2 separate regions of the Homo sapiens genome follow, and region 1 is linked to region 2. A link means that fine-mapping ties the variant in region 2 to the expression of a gene that starts in the linked region. Tissue or cell type: whole blood. Region 2 holds a variant in brackets; the other region holds the start of a gene. All regions are shown on one strand. Distances are between the middles of the regions.

Evidence for each region. PIP is the estimated chance that this variant, and not a neighbour inherited with it, causes the effect.
Region 1: NUMB starts here. The variant in region 2 is fine-mapped to the expression of NUMB in whole blood (INTERVAL, PIP 0.97).

What each region holds. Positions count from the first base shown.
Region 1 is chr14:73,456,077-73,461,224 of GRCh38, forward strand. It overlaps NUMB (NUMB endocytic adaptor protein), which reads right to left and starts at 2,470. Exons shown (of 13, transcript NM_001005743.2): 1 at 2,417-2,470. It overlaps LOC101928143 (a long non-coding RNA gene), which reads right to left. Exons shown (of 3, transcript NR_135251.1): 3 at 4,859-5,148. RefSeq lists silencers at 2,194-2,323, 2,334-2,423, 2,614-2,813 and enhancers at 2,799-3,332, 3,333-3,866.
Region 2 is chr14:73,323,998-73,329,145 of GRCh38, forward strand. All of the region lies in intron 4 of NUMB (NUMB endocytic adaptor protein), which reads right to left. Among named protein-coding and RNA genes, the nearest start is that of PAPLN-AS1, 81 kb to the left of the region's middle. The variant C/G (reference allele first, on the strand shown) is at 2,916.

The sequences.
Region 1 (5,148 bases), 130 kb after region 2:
GAAATTTAATGGAATATAATACTCCCAAAAAAACCTTTTTTTTTTTTTTTAAGATGGAGTTTCACTCTTGTTGCCCAGACTGGAATGCAATGGCATGATCTCGGCTCACTGCAACCTCCACCTCCGGGGTTCAAGCAATTCTCCAGCCTCAGCCTTCCAAGTAGCTGGGATTACAGGCACGCGCCACCACGCCCAGCTAATTTTGTATTTTTTTTAAAGATGGGGGTCTCACCATGTTGGTCAGGCTGATCTTGAACTCCTGACCTCAAGTGATCCGCCCGCCTTGGCCTCCCAAAGTGCTGGGATTATAGGCGTGAGCCACCGCACCCAGCTTTCAGACTTTTTTAACTGTAAGAAATATATTTTATCCTTTGGCCAGGAACTCAAAAAAAGAAATACACTTTACATTGTGACCTAGTACATACATGTAGGAGAAAAGTTTCCCAAAACAATACTTTTCCTTACCAAATGCAATGTCAGTTTATTCTGTTCTACATTTTATTTTCAATGCAGGTAAAAACTCACAACATTGATTTTATAAATTACTAATAAATCACAATCCACAGTTTGAAAAACACAGGCTAAAAATGAGTATCCTTTATAATAGGATCTTTTAGGCAATTTGCCTCTACCTGTCTCTTTAGCAGGTATTTTAAAGTTGCTACCATTATTACCGGTTTCATTAAAGTAAGTGGTTCTTAAAGTGTGGTCCTCTGACCAACGTGATCATCATTTGAGATAAATATAAATTATTGGGCCCCACCCCAGACCTACTGAAACCCCCAGGTGGGGCCAAGCAATCTACATTTTACCAAGCCCTCCAGGTGATTTTGATGCAAGCTAACATCTGCGAGCCAGGTCTTTACCTTCTATTTAAGAAGTCAGGTCTTTATCGTCTATTGAACAATCCAGTACACACGACTATGTGCCAGTCACTATCCTAAAAGCTCTACAAATACCAACTCACATGAAAAAAAAAACACCACCACCACCTTATAAAGTAGGAACTATTACTATTAGTATTCTGATGAGGAAACTGCACAGAAACTTAGCTAAGTGGTGGAACTAGAACTCAAAACTTCTTTTCACTTTAGCCGAGTATGCCTACCCTCTTTCTGATAAGTATTTACTTCTACTCCTTTAGTTCAGCTACTCCTCCCCTTTTCCCTCCCAAATTCCCCACCCTGTCAATGAACCTATTTCCTAATATTACTGCCATCATCCTAAAACAAATTTCTTTTCTAAAACAAGTCACTTAACCTTGCTTTTAGGAGCTTTGCTTTGGTCCTAGATGTCATCTTGATATTAATTACGAAACTGAAGTTTCTTCTATTTGTGAAGACCTGTGAACCTACATGGCTCCACTGTTAATTTCTCATATATCTACTGTCCTAGCCAGTTCCACGAAACCATTACTCTCTCCTCGGGCAACTTTCTTTCTCTACCTTATCCCCTCCTATAGGGATTCTCTCCCACCTCCGCCCATCTCCGTCCCATTTTGCATGACTCCTCTCCGACCGAGGGAACTTCCACTCCCCTGCTGGCTCCTCACCCCGGTCTCAAACGCGAGCCACTCCTCGAGGACTTCTTTCCTGGTCCCTTAGGGATCCTCAGAGCCGGAGCGGCCAGGCCAGTTGGGTCTCCCATCCCAGCTCAGCTATGGGGGCGCAGGGAGCTCCGGTTCTTCCCCCAGGCGGTGCAAGATCTCTACTCGTCCGACCCTCCGAAGACCTGCTGCTCCTCATCTCTCCAGGAGCCCCCTCCCTTGGACAGCCGCTTTTCTCAGGAGGGTCCCCAACCCCCTCCGAGCGTTTCCTCAGACGCCCCTACTTGGAGCAAGTCTGCTCCCTGTCACCCGGGACCCTGGCCACCCTCGGCCTTCCTACCTCCCTCGGACCGGGGCCACTCCCAGTTCCCCTGCCCCCCACCCCGCTCTCTCCTCACCGGCCGCTGCCGGGCTTCCCGGATTCCTTTTCTCCCTGGCACCCAAGCCGTCCTGGGTATTCCCAAGACACCCCGCCCTTGAAGCAGGTCGTTACAGGTCACCCCCTCTCTGGGACCCTGGCCGCTTCCGTTTCCTCAGATACCTACTCCTCACACAGTGGCCGCCGGTCAGCGCGCTAGACCGGAGCAGCTGGACGTCCCAAGGGACCTCCTGGCCTGACCCGCGCGGGTCCGGCCGTAGCCTACCTTCCTCGGGAGAACTCCGCAGCCAGAAGCCCAGCCCCTCTCCCCCTAGCCCAGTCAGCGCGAACTCGCCGCCGCCCCCGCCGCCTCCGCCCTGGCCCCGGCCCCGGCCCGGGCCCCGACCCGAAGTCCAGGCCCCCTTCCTCCGGCCTCCGCCTCCGGAGTGCTGAGCTGGAGATTCCGCCCCGCGACGGCCCCCAGATCTCTGACCCGCGTTACCGGCACTCACCTGCCGCTGCCCCCGACCAACTCAAGCGCCACTGCCTCTACCTCGGCCGCCAGTGGCCACCAAGCGCCACCACCTCCCCCATGACAACAGGCCCACCCTCTTTCATACTTCTAACCTATCCATTGGATAGTGGGGCGGCAGCTCTCCTCTCTGATTGGTTTAGTATACCCGCCCGTCATCGCTCTTTACCGCCCCTTTTCCTAAACCCGGTATTCGCCCCCGCCCGGACCTGGAGCGTCCTAGCCCAAGCTTTAGTTGTAATTGGTTGAGGGTTGGGCAATTCGAAGTTATGATAGGCTGCTAAAAGTGTCTGTTAAGCTAACTGGCAAGAGACGTGACGGTTAAGGTTGATTCACGCTTGTGCACAGTTTGGTTGCGCAGTAGAAAGCAAAGGAGGGGCAGACGCTCACATTCGTGGTTACCCGGGAAGGGTTAAGTCTTTGTTGTAGAGTTTTCTCTGTAAACTTTTCCACTTCTCCAGCTCACTTCCTGCAAGGAGAAGCTTATCTCTGCTAGCTTTATTCATAGGGGTAGTACTTACAAAACACCAACATTAGAGGTTGTGTTTAAGAAGTGTTTCCAAGCCCTGGGGAGAAAGGTATCAGAGAGATAAAAATGTCCCCTTCTTTTCTTTGGTCTCAATGCATCCAATTTCATTGAAGTTCTTTCCAGGAGCCTCAATGCTAAAGGGCAAAGCGCAAACTTTCATTTAGCAGAAATCAGTCAACTTCGGTTGCAATTATAAATGTCGTCAATAAACTGAAGTGGCGTATTGAGAGTTCTCCAGCTTCCAGATCCACTCCTGGCTGACCCCTGCCAATTGACCAGACAGCCATTAGCAACTTTTTTTTTTTTTTTTTTTTTCTGTGAGACGGAGTTTCTCTCTTGTTGCCCAGGCTGGAGTGCAATGGTGCTATCTCGGCTCATCGCAACCTACGCCTCCCAGGTTCAAGCGATTCTTCTGCCTTAGCCTCCCGAGTAGCTGGGATTATAGGCATGAGACGGGGTTTCTCCATGTTGGTCAGGCTAGTCTCGAACTCCCAACCTCAGGTGATCCGCCCGCCTCGGCCTCCCAAAGTGCTGGTATTACAGGCGTAAGCCACCGCGCCCGGCCAGCAACTTTCTAATAAGCGGGCCACATTATACCCTTTATGATGCTCTGGAAATGAGAATTCTGCTTTCCCCCACCTCTCACTGCCACTTTGTTTTTCTGTTCAGCAGTTCTTAAATAGCCCTACTAGCTGTGTGTCAGATACTTTAAAAGCTTCTCTCTCTCTCTCTCTTTTTTTTTTCTAAACCTCTTCCTAGCAGTCTAAATTAGGGCCATTGAATGAATTGCCGGGTTGTGTGTGTGTGTGTTTTTTTTTTTTCCTCACTTGGCACAATGCACAAGAATAAATGATTGCATTTTTTATTCACTTGGGTACAAATCACAGTAGGCATTTTTGAGAAATCTAATGTTGCTATAAAAACTCTTGTGCTCCTAGAAATATATTCATCATTAGCTTTTTGTTTTTCCTTTTTTTTCACCCACTTTTCCTGCTCCTAAATAACAAAATGCTGGTCTGATTACTCTTTCAGTTTCTAAATCAGATTTAAATGTACTTTCTCACAACCCCACCTATGATACATATACCCATGGGCCATGAAACAACACCCAGGGATAGTTTAAGACACTGTCAGGCCGTGCGGTGGCTCATGCCTGTTATCCCAGCACTCTGGGAGGCCGAGCCGGGCAGATCACCTGAGGTCAGGAGTTTGAGACCAGCCTGACTAACATGGTGAAACCCCTGTCTCTGCAGATGGTGCCACTGCACTCCAGCCTGGGCAACAGAGTGAGACTCTGTCTTAAAAAAAAAAAAAAAAAAAGACACTGTCAAGGAGGCATTCACCTCAAGGATGTGGACTTTGGAAATGTGCTTTGTCTCTTTCTTCTTTCTGCTAACCCTTTGTCTCATATTTCTTCTATTTACTAACCTCCTTGTTCTTTGCAGAGCAAGCTACAAAGAGTCTAAAACTGTATGGTTTATTATTCAGAAAAATATTGTCTTTTTTCTAGCCTATATTTTTAGTCAAGTTTAAATAAAGTACATACTTCTATCACCAGACTAAGCAGAAATTATTCCTCCAGTAACTATACATAACAATAAAGTGCCTTTTCCTAGTTATTTTCCGGAACTTTCCTCCCCCTCCTCTCTTCCTCACCTTCCAATTTAGAAATAACCTCCCATTCAATTCAATGACTCACAAAAAGCCTGTGAAAGGAAAGTGGAAAAGCCAAAATAACTTAGAGATGTCTGAATCATTCAGCTGAAGGAAAGATCAGACATTGACCATGATAAGATAGACGCCAAGACATAAGGCAAGCCTGAGCTAACATCCCATAACATGTGAAGTAATGCAAATGTGAAGATGCCCCAAGAAAAAGCAAATACCAATATGTCCTTTTACACAGCCTTTTAATATATCACCAGCAGCTTGCTTCTCTCTAGTCTTGGCAGTGTGCCATGCTACCAATTTTAGAGCAAGTTAGAAGACAATTAATGTCCTGACAGATAGGAAACAATAACGTCATAGGAGGACATGACCATTATTATGGTACTTTGGGTAATAATGGCTCTTGCACAGCCATAGTGACTAGGTGCCATAGAAAACATAGAATTAGGCCAGCCTTGCTAAGAGGACTTGCCATCTAAGTTGAAGAATGCAGCGAAATTACTATCACAAAACTG
Region 2 (5,148 bases):
GAGCAGGAGGGGCTTTCTCTGAAGCTCTCTTATCTGCCCAAAGATAGATCCTTCAAAAAGGAGCTCAATTGTTATTTATGCCCTCCCTGGGAATCTTATCAACTGGGGTAGATTAACTGTATCACAGAAGAAGAGACTAACGGTCAACACCCCAGACTCTGTCACAGGCTATCACCTATTCTTCTGAGGGCTGCTCCAGACAACTTGTATTATAGGAGAGACTTTTTATCTGCATAACAAGGCAAGCTTTGCTCACCGTGCATTTCCTCCCCTCATAGTCCCATAGGTTGTCACCACCTCCCCTCAAGTCCCTATTCCTTTCTGTAGCTCAGGATGCCATAAAAATGTCAATCATCTGGCCTTCAAGTTTGATATTTTGTGAGACTCTTATGTACAAACACATAATAAATTTTGCCTTTTTTTTTCCCTGCTAATCTATCTACTGTCAGTTTATCTCACATACTCAAATACTGAATGTTCAAAGGGTAGAGGGAAAGTTCTCTTCTCCCCAGCATCAACAAATAGTCTTGTTTGGCTTGAATATGAAATACATGCACCTGGGGAATTGAGGTGCTAAAATGGCACTTAACCCTAGAGACAATGGAGAACTAACAAAGTTTTTTTTTTTTTCAAGGTAGTAATATGATTCAAGGTCTGGTTGCAGGTAATACGGAGTAGACACACTACACCCTGTCCTTCCCACTGACTGAAACCTTAAAACCTGAACAGAATTCACAGAATAGGTACTTAAGCTTTCTGAAAAGTAAACAGAAGATGAATCAGAGTAGAATACCAGAATTCAAAGTACTATGGAAATGGCAAGGAATTTACCTCCCCTTTCTCTCTTTGGTACCTCCAGACTGAGAAAATAACTTTCATCTGAGGAATGCAAGTCCTTTTAATTATCAGGCCAATAGAGACATTAAGATGAGACTGCAATCACGCTCTACTACCCACTTTGACCCATGTATCCCTCTCCTGAAAATGCTTGCTACTGCCACAAGTAGCTAGAAATAAACCTAATAATGTCACACCAGACACTATAACCCACACCCTACCTATTGCTTAACAATGTATAGCCAATCACTAGTCAATGTTATTTCTGTAAACCAATGAGAATTCCTGACACACAACTTTTTATCAGCCCACTCCCTGTCCCCTTCTTTTGCTTTTAAAACTCCACTTGCTTGCTGGGTATGGTGGCTCAAGCCTGTAATCCCAGCACTTTGGGAAGCCAAGGTAAGAAGATCATCTGAGGCCTGGAGTTCAAGACCAGCCTGGACAACATAGTGAGACCCTGTCTCTACAAAAATAAAAAAATTAGCACACACCTGTAGTACTAACTATTCAGGAGGCTGAGGCAGAAGGATTGCTTAAGCCCAGGAGTCCAAGGCCGCAGTGAGCTATGATCACACCACAGCACACCAGCCTGGGTGATAGAGAGAGACCCTGTCTCTAAAAACCAAAATGAAATGAAGAAAACTTTTTAAAATAAAAAACAAAAATCCACCTGTAACTGCTAACTGAAGTATACATCCAGGGCAACTTCAATCTATGCTTCTGGGTTGCAATACTCAACCTTGGCCCAAATAAACCTTCTACTTACATTAATTTTGCCTCAGCTTCTTCCTTTTAGGTTGACAAGCCTGAACTTCTAGCCAGAAATCCAAAAGCGAGTGCTGTGATACAGAAAGATGTCTGGGAAAATCTCTCTAGCTCTGGTTTGAGGACCAGGAAATGGAACTCCTAAAGCTCAGAGAGAGTACAGGAGTCCCCCTCTCTTTTATTGGTTCTCTTACATCTCAGCCACCAGGAAATCCTGTGATGGTGTGATAGCAGCAGAGGTAGCAACAAAAGAAACCCCTGCAAGAGCCACACCTCTAAGGCAGGGGGAACTGCCTCTCTGTTTGGTAGAATGGTGATTCCAGGAAGATGGGGCCAATCCCCCTTTTGCTTTTTTCCTTTCTCTCTGATCTCCTGCCATTTGATCCTAGATACAAGTGAAATTGTGGGACTTCATGGTAGTGCAGGCCAACCAGAGCCCTAGGTTTCTGGCTAGAGGTCAAGAAAGGGGAGCTCCAGGGAACCAGAAAGTACCAAAGAAGGCACAGGAAGGGAGGAGCTTGAGAAAGACCATGAATTTGTTTGTGAATTCCTAGGCTCACCCTGCAGCTGCACAGGTAAGAATCTGATTCTAATTAGCATACTCAGGACTTTGACAGCTGAACTAATATACAGACCACCTCCTGGTTCCCAAACTGACCCCTAGGTGACATACACACAGAATAGATCAGAATAGCACCGCAGATCAGAATAGCATTGCAGAGGCTTTGAAAACTAAACTGATGGCCGGTCGCGGTGGGTCACGCCTGTAATCCCAGCACTTTGGGAGGCCGAGGTGGGTGGATCACTTGAGGTCAGGAGTTTGAGACCAGCTTGGCCAACATGGCGAAACCCCGTCTCTACTAAAAATACAAAAATTAGCCAGGCATGGTGGCAGGCGCCTGTAATTCCAGCTCCTCGGGAGGCTGAGGCAGGAGAATTGCTTGAACCTGGCAGGCAGAGATTGCAGTAAGCCGAGATCACCCCATTGTACTCCAGCTTGGGCAACAAGAGAGAAACTTTGTCTCAAAAAAAAGAAAAAAAAAAGAAAAAGAAAACTGAACTGATATTGGAACCACATCCCACAGAAAGTGAGTAAGAACTTGTAGCCTGAGACCTAACTGGACTGACTGGCATAGGAAATGTTCATTAAAAAGGAATTAACATTTACTGATTACCTACTGTGTGCCAGAAACTGTGCTGGATGCTTTATATATTTTGTCTAACCTAATAACTACTCAGAAAGGTATGTTTGATCACTTGATTTTAAAACTGAGGAAAGGAAATGAGGTTCAGGAGTGCTGAAAAACTTT[C/G]CCAAAGTCATACACACAGCTAGTCAGGGAAGAATATGGTTTACATTCATGACTTCAAAGTCCAAAGTTCTCACACTTGACTTTACCACAATTCAAGAAAACTTTTCCTGATTTTTCATTCCTATTATAAGGAAATTTAAAAAAAAAACAGGTTCTTTCCACATTTTTTCCTACAATTTTTAAAAATAAGAGTCCTTTCCCTGGCAAATTCTTCCTCTGGCAGGGCTGAAACTGTCAATTACAAGTGAGCCTCTCTGAAGACTCAGTGAAAACATCTAAAATAAGTTCATCATTATTCATACTTTCTCATTTCCTCTCAAGTTACAGAATTTCCACTTGGAAGAGAATTATTATTATTTTTTTGAGACACAGCCTCACTCTGTCGCCAGACTGGAGTACAGTGGTGCAATCTCAGCTCACTGCAATCTCTGCCTCCCGGGTTCAAGCGATTCTCCTGCCTCAGCCTCCTGAGTAGCTGGGACTACAGGCGTGTGCCACCACACCCAGCTAATTTTTGTATTTTTAGTAGAGATGGGATTTCACCATACTGGCCAGGCTGGTCTCGATCTCTTGACCTCGTGATCTGCCTGCCTCGGCCTCCCAAAGTGCTGGGATTACAGGTGTGAGCCACTGCACCTGGACTTGAGAATTATTAATATGAGGCGGACTAGGAGGCTTAATGACATTTTGGAATATGGTGCTGTAAAAGTACATCATTATTGAGCAAAACTAAAAAAATAGTTAAAAATCTAGTATCTGCAATTTCTGAGTAAGACTGGTTCTTAGAGATGACTCTAGCTCATATACATGGTCCTGTAGGACATAGATTTACTCATTTTTAAAAAACATACAGTAAAATTCACTCTTTTTGGTTTAGAGGTCTATGAGATTTGACAAATGTATACAGCTGTGTAACTACCACCACAATCAAGTCTGATCACTCTCAAAAATTCCCTCATGATGCCCATTTGTAATCAACTCCTCCGCCTGCCCTCCCCCACCACACCCAGTCCCCAGCCTCTGCAACTACTGATCTGTTTTCTATTCCTATAATTTTGCCTTTTAAAGAATTATCATATTGGCTGGGCGTGGTGGCTCACGCCTGTAATCCCAGCACTTTGGGAGGTGGAGGCAAGTGGATCACTTGAGGTCAGGAGTTTGAGACCAGCCTGGCCAATATGGTGAAACCCCATCTCTACTAAAAATACAAAAAGTGGCTGGGTGTGGTGGCAGGCTCCTGTAGTCCCAGCTACTCAGGAGGCTGAGGCACGAGAATTGCCTGAACCCAAGAGGCAGAGGTTGCGGTGAGCCAAGGTGGCATCAGTGCACTCCAGCCTGGGAGACAGAGCAAGACTCCATCTCAAAAAAAAAAAAAAGTCATATAAATGGAATCATACAGTATGTTCTCTTTTACCACAGAGTAGTATTTCATCATATGCATATATCACTATGTTTATCCAATCACCAGTTGAAGTATATCTTGGTTATTTCCGGTTTTGGTGATAATAAATAAAGCCATACTATTCCTTTATAGGTTTTCATATAAGAAATTTGGTCATATGGTAATTGAATGTCTGACTTTATAAGATACTCTTTCCCAAAATGTCATCACAATTTTACCTTCCCACCTGCAATGTATGAGTTCCAGTTGCTCAGCAATTGGTATCGTCTCTTTTTTAAGCCATTCTAATAGGTACATAGTGGTATCTCTTGCCATTTTAATTTGCATAATATCCCTAATGACTGATAGTTCTTGGCATCTACTTATCCACATCTTTTTTTTCTTTTTATTTGTATCCACATCTTATTTGATGAAGTATCTGTTTAAATTTGTCTATTCTTAAAAAATTATGTTTCTTTCCTGTTGGGTTTAGAGAGTTAATAATACACTCTGGGTTCAAGCCTTTTGTAGACATGTTTTGCAAATGTTTTTTCCTAGTCTCTGCCTTTACTTTTCATTCATTTTTGTTCTGAGACGGAGTCTCGTTCTGTCGCCCAGGCTGGGGTGTGCAATGGCGTGATCTCAGCTCACTACAACCTCCGCCTCCCAGGTTCAAGCAATTCTTCTGCCTCATCCTCCTGAGTAGCTGGGATTACAGGCATGTGCCACCACACCCGGCTAATTTTGTATTTTTAATAGAGATGGGGTTTCTCCATGTTGGTCAGGCTGATCTGGAACTCCCGACCTCAGGTGATCCACCCGCCTCGGCCTCCCAAAGTGCTGGGATTACAG